Linked DNA regions of Homo sapiens: region 1 is linked to region 2. The links come from fine-mapping of genetic effects on plasma protein levels. A gene starts in region 2. The other region holds a variant in brackets. All regions are shown on one strand. Distances are from middle to middle.

What was found. PIP is the chance, under the fine-mapping model, that this variant and not a neighbour inherited with it causes the effect. The UK Biobank Pharma Proteomics Project read protein levels with antibody pairs (Olink). The fine-mapping took linkage between variants from a reference panel, not from the people measured, so its PIPs are less certain.
Region 1: its variant is fine-mapped to the plasma level of the ARHGEF10 protein (UK Biobank, PIP above 0.99).

What each region holds. Positions count from the first base shown.
Region 1 is chr8:1,859,022-1,864,164 of GRCh38, forward strand. It overlaps ARHGEF10 (Rho guanine nucleotide exchange factor 10), which reads left to right. Exons shown (of 29, transcript NM_014629.4): 4 at 876-1,163. Among named protein-coding and RNA genes, the nearest start is that of ARHGEF10, 38 kb to the left of the region's middle. The variant A/G (reference allele first, on the strand shown) is at 4,736.
Region 2 is chr8:1,819,248-1,827,761 of GRCh38, forward strand. It overlaps ARHGEF10 (Rho guanine nucleotide exchange factor 10), which reads left to right and starts at 4,679. Exons shown (of 29, transcript NM_014629.4): 1 at 4,679-4,866.

The DNA of each region.
Region 1 (5,143 bases), 38 kb after region 2:
TTGTTTGCCCGGTGTTTCTTTGGCCATAGCACCTGCCTCTTGGTTGTTTGCACGGTGTTTCTTTGTGCATAGTACCCGCCTCTCTGCTTGCACGGTGTTTCTTTGTGCGCAGCACGCGCCTCTCTGCTTACACGGTGTTTCTTTGTGCACAGCACCAGCCTCTCGGTTGTTTGCCCGGTGTTTCTTTGGCCATAGCACCTGCCTCTCGGTTGTTTGCCCGGTGTTTCTTTGGCCATAGCACCTGCCTCTTGGTTGTTTGCATGGTGTTTCTTTGTGTGCAGCACGCGCCTCTCTGCTTACACGGTGTTTCTTTGTGCATAGCACCAGCCTCTCGGTTGTTTGCCCGGTGTTTCTTTGGCCATAGCACCTGCCTCTCGGTTGTTTGCACGGTGTTTCTTTGTGCGCAGCACCCGCCTCTCTGCTTACATGGTGTTTCTTTGTGCATAGCACCAGCCTCTCGGTTGTTTGCACAGTGTTTCTTTGGCCATAGCATCAGCCTCTCGGTTGTTTGCATGGCGTTTCTTTGTGCACAGCACCCGCCTCTCAGCTTGCATGGTGTTTCTTTGTGTGTAGCACCAGACTCTTGGTGAGGGGAGCAGCTGCCCTCCTCCGGCAGCTTCTCCCTGACTTAGCTCATGGGATGAGCCTCCTGTAGTGACCAGGCTGCATCCGTCTCACCTGTGCCCAGAGGTGATGCTGGGTTCCCCATGTGTGAGTGCTCCCTCCGAGGCCACCTGATGACCTGGGAACGTCTAGGGGTCCTGGCATGGGATGATGGTGGGAGCTCATACCTGCTTCCCACTTGCGCTCCAGGAGGGCATGCCTGCCATGCCCTTGGTGATGTGTCTGCTGACAAGTCCTTTCTGCATCCCCAGGAGGTGAGGATGGAGCTGGAGCAGAAACCACCCCAGTGGCAGAGCCTACTAAGCTGGTGCTCCCGATGAAAGTCAACCCATATTCTGTCATCGACATCACGCCATTCCAGGAGGACCAGCCGCCCACCCCCGTGCCCAGCGCTGAGGAGGAGAATGTGGGTCTCCATGTGCCCTGCGGGTACTTGGTGCCTGTACCCTGCGGCTATGCGGTGCCCTCCAACCTGCCCCTCCTGCTGCCCGCCTACTCCAGCCCGGTCATCATCTGCGCCACGTCCCTGGACGAAGAAGGTACTGCTACCCTCCTCTCCACGCCCCCGAAGTGGCCTGTGGTTCCCTCCTCTCCACGCCCCCGAAGTGGCCTGTGGTTCCCTCCTCTGCATGCCCCGGATGTGGCCTGTGGTTCCGTAGAGTCCGGGCCTGACCTTCCCCCCTCCTCCTCCTCTCCATGCCCCCGATGTGGCCTGTGGTTCCGTAGAGTCCGGGCCTAACCTTCCCCCCTCCTCCTCCTCTCCATGCCCCCGATGTGGCCTGTGGTTCCGTAGAGTCTGGGCCTGACCTTCCCTCCTCCTCCTCTCCATGCCCCTGATGTGGCCTGTGGTTCCGTAGAGTCCGGGCCTGACCTTCCCCCTGCCCCCACCCAGGTCATTAGATGTTTGTTTACAGAGTTGGAAAATGAGCCCCTAGTTCATCTTCAGTGACAGGAACACCACTGAGGGAAGGCCAGGGTGTATGGTTTGGAAATTTTTGAAACAACGTCTGGTGCCGAATGTGTTGCCCCCTCATGTCTGGGGTGCCTTGAACTTCACCCCGATCTCTGATTCCCCCACCAGCTGCTCACGGGAGTGTGTGCAGTTTTTGGCCTGTATGACTTACTGTGCTAGATGACAGTTACCGTTATGTATGTCCCGTGTCACCTGCTTGTCTATAGACTCAGACTCCCTGGGGTCAAAGCGTGTGTCTCGCTGTCTTCATTCCAGAGGATGGAGGGGTGGTGGGGGTGGGAGAATTGCCTCAGGGGCTCCCTGTTTCCCACTCATGCTTTTCCTCGCCGGGAAGATGCCGCAGGATCTCAGCAGAGTCCTCAGTGGAAGGTCAGAGCCACCTGGGGCAGCACAAAGGGCTCAGAGTCGGCCACTGAGGACGGTGTTCCCTGTAGCCAGGACATGCTCCGAGCGAGGACTGTGGGTGCCCTCGTGGGTGCCTCGCTCACCTCCGGTCTCTGTGTCCTCAGCGCTGACAGCTCCATTTCGAGTCTGCTTCCTCCTCCACTTAGTGAGAAGGAGTGGCCATGTGCTCTAGAAGGGGCTTGGTTGGTGGAGCCCGTTCTCTGCTGTCCTTACATGGCCCTGCCATGTGTAGTCACGCACCAGCTGTGTCTGCAGAGCCACAGGGTTCTGCTGGAAGGACAGCGTGCAGTCCGTGGCTGCTTCGACTGCAGCCCAAGGGCTGGGGCCTCCTGCCGGCCCTGCTGTAGGGCCAGGCGCCAGGGTGAGGGTAAGCACATACCCTGCCTCTGTCTTCAGGAGCGACCCAGTCGAGGCGTCTCAGCCGAAGTTTTCCTTTTTTGCCCAGATCTGTTTCTATGCTGTCTTTCCCAGGAACGCGCTGCAGGATTCCCAGGGTTCATGGGATGTTCCTCTAATGGAAGCCCACAGCCTCTACGCCTGAGACATGATTCTTATTCCTGTAAAGGTTTCAGTGGAAGCAGCCTTCCCTTTCCAGTTAATAACAGTTGAGAAAAAAAAATCCTTAAAGAAAAATCTCAATTTTGGATTTTGGGAAACACAGAGGTTTCAGAATAGACGGCCTCCTGTGCGTTTTCCTGTTGAAGTCGGCCAGAGTCCTCGGAACTCACCACGGTCTGCATGATCCACGCTGCTGTTGTCACTCTGTGACCGCGGAGCATGAGAACCCCCTGGAAATGAGGGCGTGCAGAGTGTAGGATTCTTGGCTGAAGGAAAATACGTTTGTTTTAAAGTGATTTTCTTATTTTAAAATATTATTTGATTATTTAAAATAATTGCATATCATTTAATTTATTTTTAAAATAACTTAGCATGAATTTAAAACAATTTGCTTATTTTTGTTCTGTCAACCTAGAGCCAGTAATAAAGCCTTGTTCTAATAAAGACTATTTTAAGTCCCGGAGTAGAGGAGCAGGTGGTTCTCCGGTTGCGTTTTGATCATTGAATGAGGGATGTGAACGCAGACCTCCTTCCTGGGAGGTGGAAAAGCGTGGATTTGGTGTTAGGCCCGGTCCCCAGCCTGGCCCACACTTCCTGCCTGGTGGCACTGCTGGCTTTTCTGTTCCTTGCTCTGGAGCCTCCCTGGGGCGGGGCGGCCGCCTGGCTCTGCAGGGCTTCCCCGGGACGTACAGCCCAGCCAGGATCCCCAGGCCTGCGGTGGGAGGTTGCAGAGCCCTGCCTGGAGCTCCCAGCTGGCCAAACTGGGATGACCAGATTCCGTTATTTTTCCTGCCTACCGAAACCAGCTCTCAAAGACGTCCACAGGCAGGTCCTGCTCTTGTTTACGCACGGGCTGTTGTGGCCAGAAGCCTCTGGGTGCGCTGCTGCTCGGAGCTGTTTAGGCGACTCCCTGGCCAGCGTGTCTGCCTCCTTCTGACCTTGACAGACTCAGTTTGCACCTTAATTTCCCGGAAGGCGGAGGAAAGAAGAGTTTCCTGGGGTGGAGCCCTGAGAGGGCTCATGTGTGTGCTCTGGGGATGGGAGTCTGTGCTCCTGGACACCCCCGTGGGGGAGACATTTCTCACCGTGCAGCGAGATTGCTGCTGGGCAGCACGTCCTGCCTTTGTCCCTCTGCAAAACACAAGTAAAAGCTTTGTGGCTCTTTGGGTGTTTCTTTTCCTTTTTTTCTTCTTCTTTTTTTTTTTTTTTTTTTTTGAGACAGAGTCTCGCTCTGTCGCTCAGGCTGGAGTACAGTGGCGGGATCTCGGCTCACTGCAAGCTCCGCCTCCCGGGTTCACACCGTTCTCCTGCCTCAGCCTCCCAAGTAGCTGGGACTACAGGCGCCCGCCACCACGCCCGGCTAATTTTTTGTATTTTTTTTTTAGTAGAGACAGGGTTTCACCATGTTGACCAGGATGGACTTGATCTCCTGACCTCGTGATCCGCCCGCCTCAGCCTCCGAAAGTGCTGGGATTACAGGCATGAGCCACCGCGGCCAGCTGGATCTTTGGGTGTTTCTTTGAGGCAGTGTGGCAGTGTGGGAAGGGCAGTTTTTGGAGCAGGCAGATTGGATTTCAGATCCTGGCCCTGTGTCTGCCCTGACACCTGCCACTCAGGAAGGTGGCCCGGAACACTGAACCAGCAGATGCATGTGGGATTTGCAGCGCTACCCGCAGATCCACCCCCCCAGCCCCTCGGGCATCTCGTGTCTGTTGCTAGTCAGCATCCAGCTGTGTGGCAGCTCCTGGTGTGACCAGGGACCTGTTTTCAGGGATGAGACCTCCAAGCAGGTTACATCGAGCTCAGCTGTCTCCGACTTTGAGCCAACTGCTGCGGTTTGAAAACGGTTGAGAACTGTTGCTCATTCCAAAGATAAATTCCCTTTAGAAAGTGTTTCATGGACAGCTGCCAGTGTGGCGATGAGCAGCAGCCGCTGAGTGCTGCTGGCTCTCCTTCCCCACATCATTCTTGGTGCCACGCGGCTGGGCGGTGGCAGATTCGTCAAGGGACCACGTGGCCCGCACCCACGCAGTACAGCCATCACAGACTCTGGCTGGCTTCTGCCCAGGAGCCCTCCGAGGTGGGAGGGTCTGCTTCTTCTGCACTGGCGTCTCAGGCTGTCCTTGGATGGTCTAAGTTCGTACCCCACCTGTGTGGAATGTTTGGGAAACCTGC[A/G]CTGCGGCTTTGCTCACGGCTCACCGTTCACCCTGGAGAGCCACAGACAGGCAGGGAGGAATCGTCAGGCGGGTCGGACTGCGCGTGTATTTGCGTGTGGAGGGATGTGAGCGTGTGCCAGTGAAAGCTGGTGTCACATGTCACAAGCGTAACCACTCCTCTCTTGAACATCTTTTGAGCGTGCCAGGCGGATGCCCCTTCAGGCCAGTCACAGCCGTGGCTCCTGTGGACACATGGAGTGGGAGAGAACATCCCGTTTCTTTCTAACTCTAGCCTGATGCATCTGGGTGCCGGTCACAGCCGTGGCTCCCATGCACATGTGGAGTGGGAGAGAACATCCCGTTTCTTTCTAACTCTAGCCTGATGCATTTGGGTGCTGGTGCAGTTTATTTCTGGCTGTTTCACAAG
Region 2 (8,514 bases):
CCTTGCACTTAATTTGCTTGCAATTAATTAAGGGATATTTTGTATTCCGTCAATAAAGGGAATCATTATTTTTTTAAAGGAACCCAGCTTTTAAAACCCCTTTTTGCTGATACATAACTTAATTTGTTCCTGCTACTGTAACAAAACACCAGAGACTGGGTCATTTATAGACAACAGGAGTTTATTTCTCACAGTTCTGGACGTGGGGAAGTCCAAGATCAACGTGCCAACAGGTTCAGTGTCTGGGGAGAGCCTGGTCTCTGCTCACAAGACAGCACCTTGAGCACTGTGCCCTCACTGGTAGGAGGGGTGAACAGCCCCCTGGCACTTCTACAAGGGCACTAAGCCCATCCCTCATGACCCACTAACCTCCTCAAGGCCCCACCTCTTACTGCTATCACGTTGGTGATGAACTTTCAGTCATCAAGGGGGATGCATTGAGGCCACTGTATATATCCCATGAAGTAGCTTACTCTTGTGTTCGGCTTGATTCTATTTACAAAGTGAACACACCCATGTGTCTGCAAATCAAATCAAGATGTAGTCACCGTTTTCATCACTCCCCAGAATTCCTTTGTCTTTTCTGAGACAATACCCCCAAAAATAACCACTGTTCTGATTCCTATTATTATAGGTTGGTTTGGCACATTCTTGAATTTCATAAAAATTGAATCATACTATATGTGCCCTTTTGTCTATGTTTTTCATGTTTTCAAGATTCATTGTTATTGAACATATCAGTTTCTTCCTTTTTATTACTGTATTATTAGTATTCTATTATTCTATGAAGATACAATACTTTATGAGTTCACCTGTTGATGGAATTTGGGTTGTTTCCAGTTGCGAAGTATTTGAACTGTTTTGAAGAAAGAATTCTTGTAAAAATCATTTTTTTTTTTTGAGACAGGGTCTTGCTCTGTCCACCCAGGCTAGAGTGCAGTGGTGGTGAACATGACTCATTACAGCCTTGACCTCCCAGCCTCAAGCGATCCTCCCACTTCAGCTTCCTAAGTAGCTGGGACTGGAGGTGGAGACTATCATGCTAGACTCCTGGGCTCAAGCAATCCTCCACCTTGGCCTCCTAAAGTGCTGGGGTTACAGGTGGGAGTCACCATGTCTGGCTGTAAAAGTCTTTTAAGGGACTTATGTTTTCACTTGCCTTGGGCAAACCTAAAAGTGGGATTGCTGAGAAATGGGCAAACAATTAATCAGAGTGGTTGCGCCATTTGCACTCTCATCGCCTTGTATAGTGGTTCCAGGGGCTCCACATTTTTACCCTTGCCATGTCGGTCTGCAGTTTCAGCCGTGCTTGGATGACGGTGGTGGCATCTCATTGTGAGTTTACTTTGGGTAACACTGAGCACTATTTCCTGTTCTTGTTGGCTATCAGTACATCTTTGGTGAAGTATTTACGTCTTTTGTTTATTTTTAAATAGACTTGTTATTGTTATTTACAGGCTTGTTATTGTTATATTGTTTTGTCCCTTTTGAAATAGACTTGTCTTGTTATTGTTCATTTGCAGGAGTTCTCTATTTACCAGGACTATGGTTTGAACGCGTTTTCCCCAAAGTTTATGTGTTGGAAACTTGACCCCCAATGCAGCAGTGTTGGAAGGTGCCTACTAGGTGGTGTCTGGGTCATGGGGGTATGACCCTCATGGATGGATAAATGCCATGACTGAGGCGGTGGGCTCCTTATAAAAGAATGAGTTTGGGTGAAACCTCGTCTCTACTAAAAATACAAAAATTAGCTGGGTGTGGTGGCACATACCTGTAATCCCAGCTACTCGGGAGGCTGAGGCAGAATAGCTTGAACCAGGGAGTCGGAGGTTGCAGTGAGCAGAGATCGCACCACTGCACTCCAGCCTGATGACAGAGCAAGACTCCGTCTCAAAAAAAAAAAAAAAAAAGATAAGTTTGGCCCATTTTGCATCCTCCCTCCCCACCTCCGCCTCCCACCTTCCGTCATGGGATGATGCAGCCCGAAGGTTCTTGCCAGATGTGGCTCCTTGATCTTGAACTTCCCAGCCTCCAGAACTGTGAGAAATAAATTTCTTTTCATTGTAAATCACCCATTCCCAGGTATTCTGTTACAGCAGCACAACGTGGATTAAGACAAGCCATTTGTGGGATATATGCATTGCCCCTGTGTTCTCCCAGTCTGTGGCTTGCCTTTTCATTTTCTTAATGATGTCATGAGATGAGTAGAAATATTAAATTTTGATAAGCCATTTAATCATTTTTAAATGGTCGGTCCATTTTCTGTCTTACCTGAAGATCCGTAAGATCTTTTCTTATATTTTATCCTAGCAACTTTATAATTTTTACACTTAAGTCTATGATCCATCTGAAATTCCTAAATTCTATTTTAATCCTAATAGTTTATTTGTAGATAATTTTGTTTTTTAACATATATAATCATATTGACTGTAAATAATCAGTTTTTCCTCCCTCAATCCTTACACTTTTTGTTTTTATGACCTACAACACTTGTTAGATGCTGCAGGACAATGCTGAATAGACTACGGAGAGTCAAAGATTTTCATACACCCTTATCAGTACAAGTAGATAAAAAGTACAAGTAGATAAAAAGTACAAGTAGATAAAAAAATCAGTAACAAATATGACCTAATTGACATCTGTAGAACTTTATGTCAGTGAAAGCATGTTCTCAGCAAGTGCTCATAGAACATTTACCAAAATAGACAATGTTGGGCCATGAAGCAAGTGTTTGAAAATCTTAAACGACAAAAATAAAACAGCTGATGTTTTAAGGCCCGGTGGAATTAAACTTTAGTTACAATAAAAAGAAAACCAGAAAGTCCCCATATATTTGAAAGGTGAACCTAACTTTTCTAAATATCCCATGGGTCAAAGAGGGAATCACAATGGAAAATCCCAACTCTTCCATATCCGGGCTTACGAAAATAGGGATGTATCTGTGAGGAACGCCTGAATAAAGCAGACAGACAGGATCTATTGGAGCTCCAAATCAGGGGATTTTCTGCCCAACCTGCCTGGAAGGCATTGCTCTGTGGCCCTACTCAGTGGTGTCCCTGGCGGCCCTGAGTTTAGGGGCTCAATTTCATCCATTGAGAAAATGAGTTGTTTATTCCATACACAGGACTATTTCCTCTTATCTCTACCTTTTTAGAAAACACTACAAGTATCAGGATTTTCTCATCGTATTTAGGTAAACAAGAACTAATTTAGTTGACCTTCTTACTTCTGTTGATCAAGACCATTGATCTGACCATTGATCTGTGCAGAAGATCTCTGAATAAGGTACCCAGAGAACCCTAGGAATAGAAACCTGAAATAAGTTTTCTAATCTTAAGGTCGCTGAGAGCAAATACCTTTTTCAATTGATTCATAAAAACAACTCAGTCTGATTTCATAAAATTAGCAAGTGTGAATAATAAACATTGAAAAAATATCACCTTACCTACGATTATTTTTTCCAGCCATTGTAGTCTTTCTATGTTGGCTATGATTTTTACATAGTCCAAAATTTTCAGGGAAATAACTTATTCCAGAGCACACAAGCCTTAAGGGCAGTTAATGTTTAGATTAATTTCGTGATACTTAGCATCCCAAATAGCTGTTTGTATTTCTTCTATAAAACAAGTGAAAGGGGCTAGAAATCTCTAAGAAGTCTGACAGTTCTAAAACACTGACTTAAAATTACTTCTATGATTCGGAGATTTGGGTAGGAGAAGGCATAGAAATAAATCTAGCATCTGCGAACACACTTGTTAAATGTGCTGACCAGGTAAAAGATAACATCCTTTAGTTATTTTGGTTAAAAATGTCTTTGTTTCTCGTTTTTTTTTTTCTTTAATAGTAATTATAACGATAATCTGTTTCCTTTTTAAAAGTATAAGACAAATAAATGCTCAAAGTAAACAATTCCAATAACTCAGAAGGGGCCATTCCCTGGAAAGGTCCCGGGAAAAACGAGCGCTTCCTGGCAAGAAGCAAGCTTCAAAAACTGCCTCGGAAACGTGGCTGAAGTCATCGCATTTCCAAACGCCCAAGCCTTGGCTGGTCCAGGGCAGCTGGCGCGGAAGACCCGGAACGCCCTGTGGGCAGGGCCAGCTGCGGACGGAGGGACGGGGGCTCAAGGGCGGGTCGGGTGGGGTCCCGACGCCCCCTCCTCGGCTGGGCGCACCCCGGGTGTCCGCAGGGAGGGGCGATGTTCTGGGGGGGGGAGCGTCTGCCCGACGCCCCCTCCCTCAGGTGAGCTCAGCCCGTGGGGGTCCGCAGAAAGGGCGGTGCTCTGGGAGAGGGTTAGGGTCTGCCCGGCGCACCCTCCCCAAGGGGCGCAGCTCTGAGCCGGGAGCAGGCTCTGCGGGGAGGATCCAGATGTTGGGGGCGGGGAGGGCACTCGGTCTGCCCAGCGACCCCTCCCGAAGTGAGCGCGGCCCGGGGTCCGCGGGGCAGGAGATGATCCGGGGGCGGGAGCCTCTGCCGCGCGCCCCCTCCCACGCGTGCGCAGCCTGGGCCGGGCGTTGGGCAGCGGGAGGGGGCGCGGGCGGCCACGTGGCCTCGAAGGAATGCGCGGGCGCGAGGGCAGGGCGCTGCCGAGAAACCGGCAGGCTCTGCGGCCAATGGGCGCCCGGAACGGTCTGGGCCCGCCAATGACAGCATGGTGGGTGGAGCAGGCCGTCCGGGCGGGAGGGGCTGGGCGCATCCCTGTAGCCGGCGGGCGCGCGATCCGGGACGGACGGGGTCGCGGGGGACGCGGGGGACGCGGGGGACGGCGGGGAACGGCGGGGGACGGCGGGGAACAGCGGGGGACGGCGGGGAACAGCGGGGGACGGCGGGGAACAGCAGGGGACTGCGGGTCGCGTCCTGGCCGCCGAGGTGAGTGCGGGCCCCGCGGACCGTGGGTCCCCTCGCGGGCTTCTGGTTTCCTTTGAGAGTTGCACTTCTGCCCGGCTCCCCCGAAATCGCTGGGTCCCACCCGGAGGTGGCTGCGCCCCCGACCCCCTGCGCAGATGTTTCAGGGAAGGGGCTGAGACCCCCTCCCCCCGAGCAGCTCCCCCTTCCGCGGCGCCCCCGGCCCCTCAGGATAACGGCGCGGGCCTGGGCGGGGGGAGCAGGGACTGGCAGCAGGGACCCCTGGCCCCAGGGGCAGGAGCGAACTCCGATCGGCGGAAGGAGCCCGAGGGGCGAGCTGGCTTCGCCTGGGGGGTCGTGCAGTAACTTAGATTTTCCGGTAAAGGAGAAGAATGCGGTCCGCCTCAGGATGCAGAGAAGGACCGGTGTAAGGAAAGCCGGCGTCTTTCCCCCGCACCCTACCTGTCCCCCTACCCCACCAGTTCCCCGCACCCCGTGTACCCCGCCTGTCCCTCAGCACCCCCTGTTCACTCTGCACTCCACCAGTTCCCCGCACCCCAGCTGTCCCCCCGCACCCCACCTGTTTACCCTGCACCCCAGCTGTCCCCCGCGCCGCAGCTGTCCCCCCCACACCCCACCTATTCCCCCGCACCCCGCCTGTCCCCCCGCACCCTACCTGTTTATTCTGCACCCCACCTGTCCCCTCGCACCCCACCTGTTCCCCCTGCACCCCACCTGTCTTCCCCACACCCCACCTGTTTACTCTGCACCCCAGCTGTCCCCCCACACCCCACCAGTTCCCCGCACCCCGTGTACCCCGCCTGTCCCTCAGCACCCCATGTTAACTCTGCACTCCACCAGTTCCCCGCACCCCACCTGTCCCCTCGCACCCCACCTGTCCTCCCCACACCCCACCTGTTTACTCTGCACCCCAGCTGTCCCCCCACACCCCACCTGTTCACCCGCACTCCACCTGTCCCCCCGCACTCCACCTGTCCCCCCGCACCCCACCTGTCCCCCCTGCACCTCACCTGTCCCCCCGCACCCCACCTGTCCCCCCGCACCCCACCTGTCCCCCCGCACTCCACCTGTCCCCCCGCACCCCACCTGTCCCCCCGCACCCCACCTGTCCCCCCGCACCCCACCTGTCCCCCGCACCCCACCTGTTCACCTGCACCCCACCTGTCCCCCCGCACCCCACCTGTCTCCCCGTACCCCACCTGTTCCCCCGCACCCCACCTGTCCTCGCACCCCACCTCTCTCCCTGAACCCCACCTGTCCCCTGCACCTCAACTGTCCTGCACCCCACCTGTCCCCCTGATCCCCACCTGTCCTCTGCACCTCACCTGTCCCCCTACACCTCACCTGTTTACCCTGCACCCCAGCTGTCCCTCGCACCCCAGCTGTCCCCCCCGTACTCCACCTGTTCCCCTGCACCCCACAGCCCGCTGGTGCCCAAGAAGCCAAGGTAGATTCTGAGGAAACTGCCCTAGGTCCACAGACGCCCTGCCCACCTGTCCCAGCCCCACTCCCCTTCCATGGGCCCCTGGGCACTGAAGGTGAGGTCTGAGTACCCCTCCCGACTGTGGCCAGTAGGTCATGTTCCCAGGCAGCAGTAGACGAACTTGCTGTTGTCTGATATTGATTCCAGTCACTAACTTTGGCTGCAAGTAAAAATTCTCATTGACTCAAGATGTAACGGGTTTTAATTCTTTTCTCTGGTTAACCATAACCTGAGTACGGACTGGTCAGTATTCTAGATTCTGTGCAGGAGTGACTTAATGTCCATATGGGTGGAATGCTGCAAGGAGGAACAATTTCACTGTTGCTGATTAATAATATGTTTTGAACACCTGCTTTATAGAAAATAATTTTTATTCGAAAAGAGAGATGATTACTGAGGTTTACACGTCATGTATTTTTAAAAACACACTTTGTCCCTGTCTGTCTCTCACAGCATTTATTTGCTGGCTTTAGCAGCCAACATCGGCAGTTACGGATGCATAACTCTTTATAGACAGATGAGACCTCCAGGATTTCTCAGCAGTAAGAAAAGTCATTTGTATAAGGTGCTATTTGTAATTCATTAGTTGTAGACAGTTGGGGGTGAAGTGAAGTTAAAAGTTATTCAGAATAGCTTTTTATGTTTTTAAAAGTTGATGCTTGACTTCCAGATGTAACCACATTTGTCTTCTGGGTGCTTTGGTGTGCTGCCTTTCCTCTGCAGTTTGTGTGTGCATACGTGTGCGTGTGTCTTTGTGTATGTGTTTGTGTTTGTATGCATGTGTGTGCGTTTGTGTGTGCGTGTGTTTGTGTGTGTGCTGTGTGTGTGTGCGCTTTGTGTGTGTGTGTGTGCGCGTGTGTGAGTTGTAGATAGAGGCGTTGGGTGGTGTGGAGGGTGTGGAGTTACAGACCTGGGTTGAGGTGGGGAAGCTTTTCCCTGGCCCTGTGAGTCCAGACTTCTCACGGGACTTGAGGGTGCTCACTTACGAAGTTGCTAGAAGGCGTTGTATGGGGAAGTGCTGCTTAAAACAAAGATGTTTGGCATAAATTAGAGCAAACTGGAAATGCGCTAATGACGGTTGTATTCTGTAAGCGATGTGAAAACGTCATAGTGAGATGTAAGAAAGCGCTGTTGTAGGCCCGTCATTGTTTACTGCACAGTGTGTGGCAGGAAGCATGCAAAGAACAGCTCGGATCTGGAGATGCTCAGAGAATCTGTGTTTCATGCGTGCGTTGCTTATAGTTTGCCTGGGTAGAAAGGTAAGTGGCGTGAAATAAGACAGAAGGGAAGCGTAGCTGTTAGTCATTCATGAGGGAGAACTTCAGCTCTCTCCCTTAACCAGGCTTTCTGGGAGTGTAATTTTGGAAGGTTCTGGGAGCTCTGCAGTGGAAAGGGGTGGGCCAGGCCCAGGGGCTGCCAAGGGTCTGAGAGGCAGGGAGAGCAGAGGCCGGTGACCAGCAGGGGTCCTTGCCTGGGTGGCAGACAGGGCCACAGCCCCAGGTCCGTCTAGGGAGGGGCAGGGTTACCTGTAAGGACAGGTGTGGCAAAGGGGCCCAGGGAGAATGCCCTGCCACCAGCCCCCACGCTGATACACACACACTTCTGCCACATCTGCCACCCTACTCTGCTTCAGCCTGTTCATAGTTGTCAGGTTTGGACATTGGTTTTGGTTCTGTTTGTTTGTTTTCTGTGAGTAGTTTTCCAAATTTTGATAAAAAAGTGATCTTTTTTTTTGAAATGGAGTATCACTCTGTTGCCCAGGCTGGAGTGCAGTGGAGAGATTCGGCTTGCTGCAGTCTTTGCTTCCCAGGTTCAAGCAATTCTCCTGCCTCTGCCTCCCAAGTAGCTGGGATTATAAGCACCCACCACCGTGCCCGGCTAATTTTTGTATTTTTAGTAGACGGGTTTTGCCATGTTGGCCAGGCTGGTCTTGAACTCCCGACCTCAAGTGATCCACCTGCCTCAGCCTCCCAAAGCGCTGGGATTACAGGCGTGAGCCACTGCATGCCCCGTCAAAATGATCATTTTAAATCGTGGATTTTTCCTTTCCTTCCATCATTGCCATTTCCTGCTTTTTGTTGTATCATTAGAGTAAAGCAGGCCTGCCAGTAGAAAGTGCTATATGGGGGTTGTTGGTATTTTATATTTTTGTTAAATGATGTGAAAAA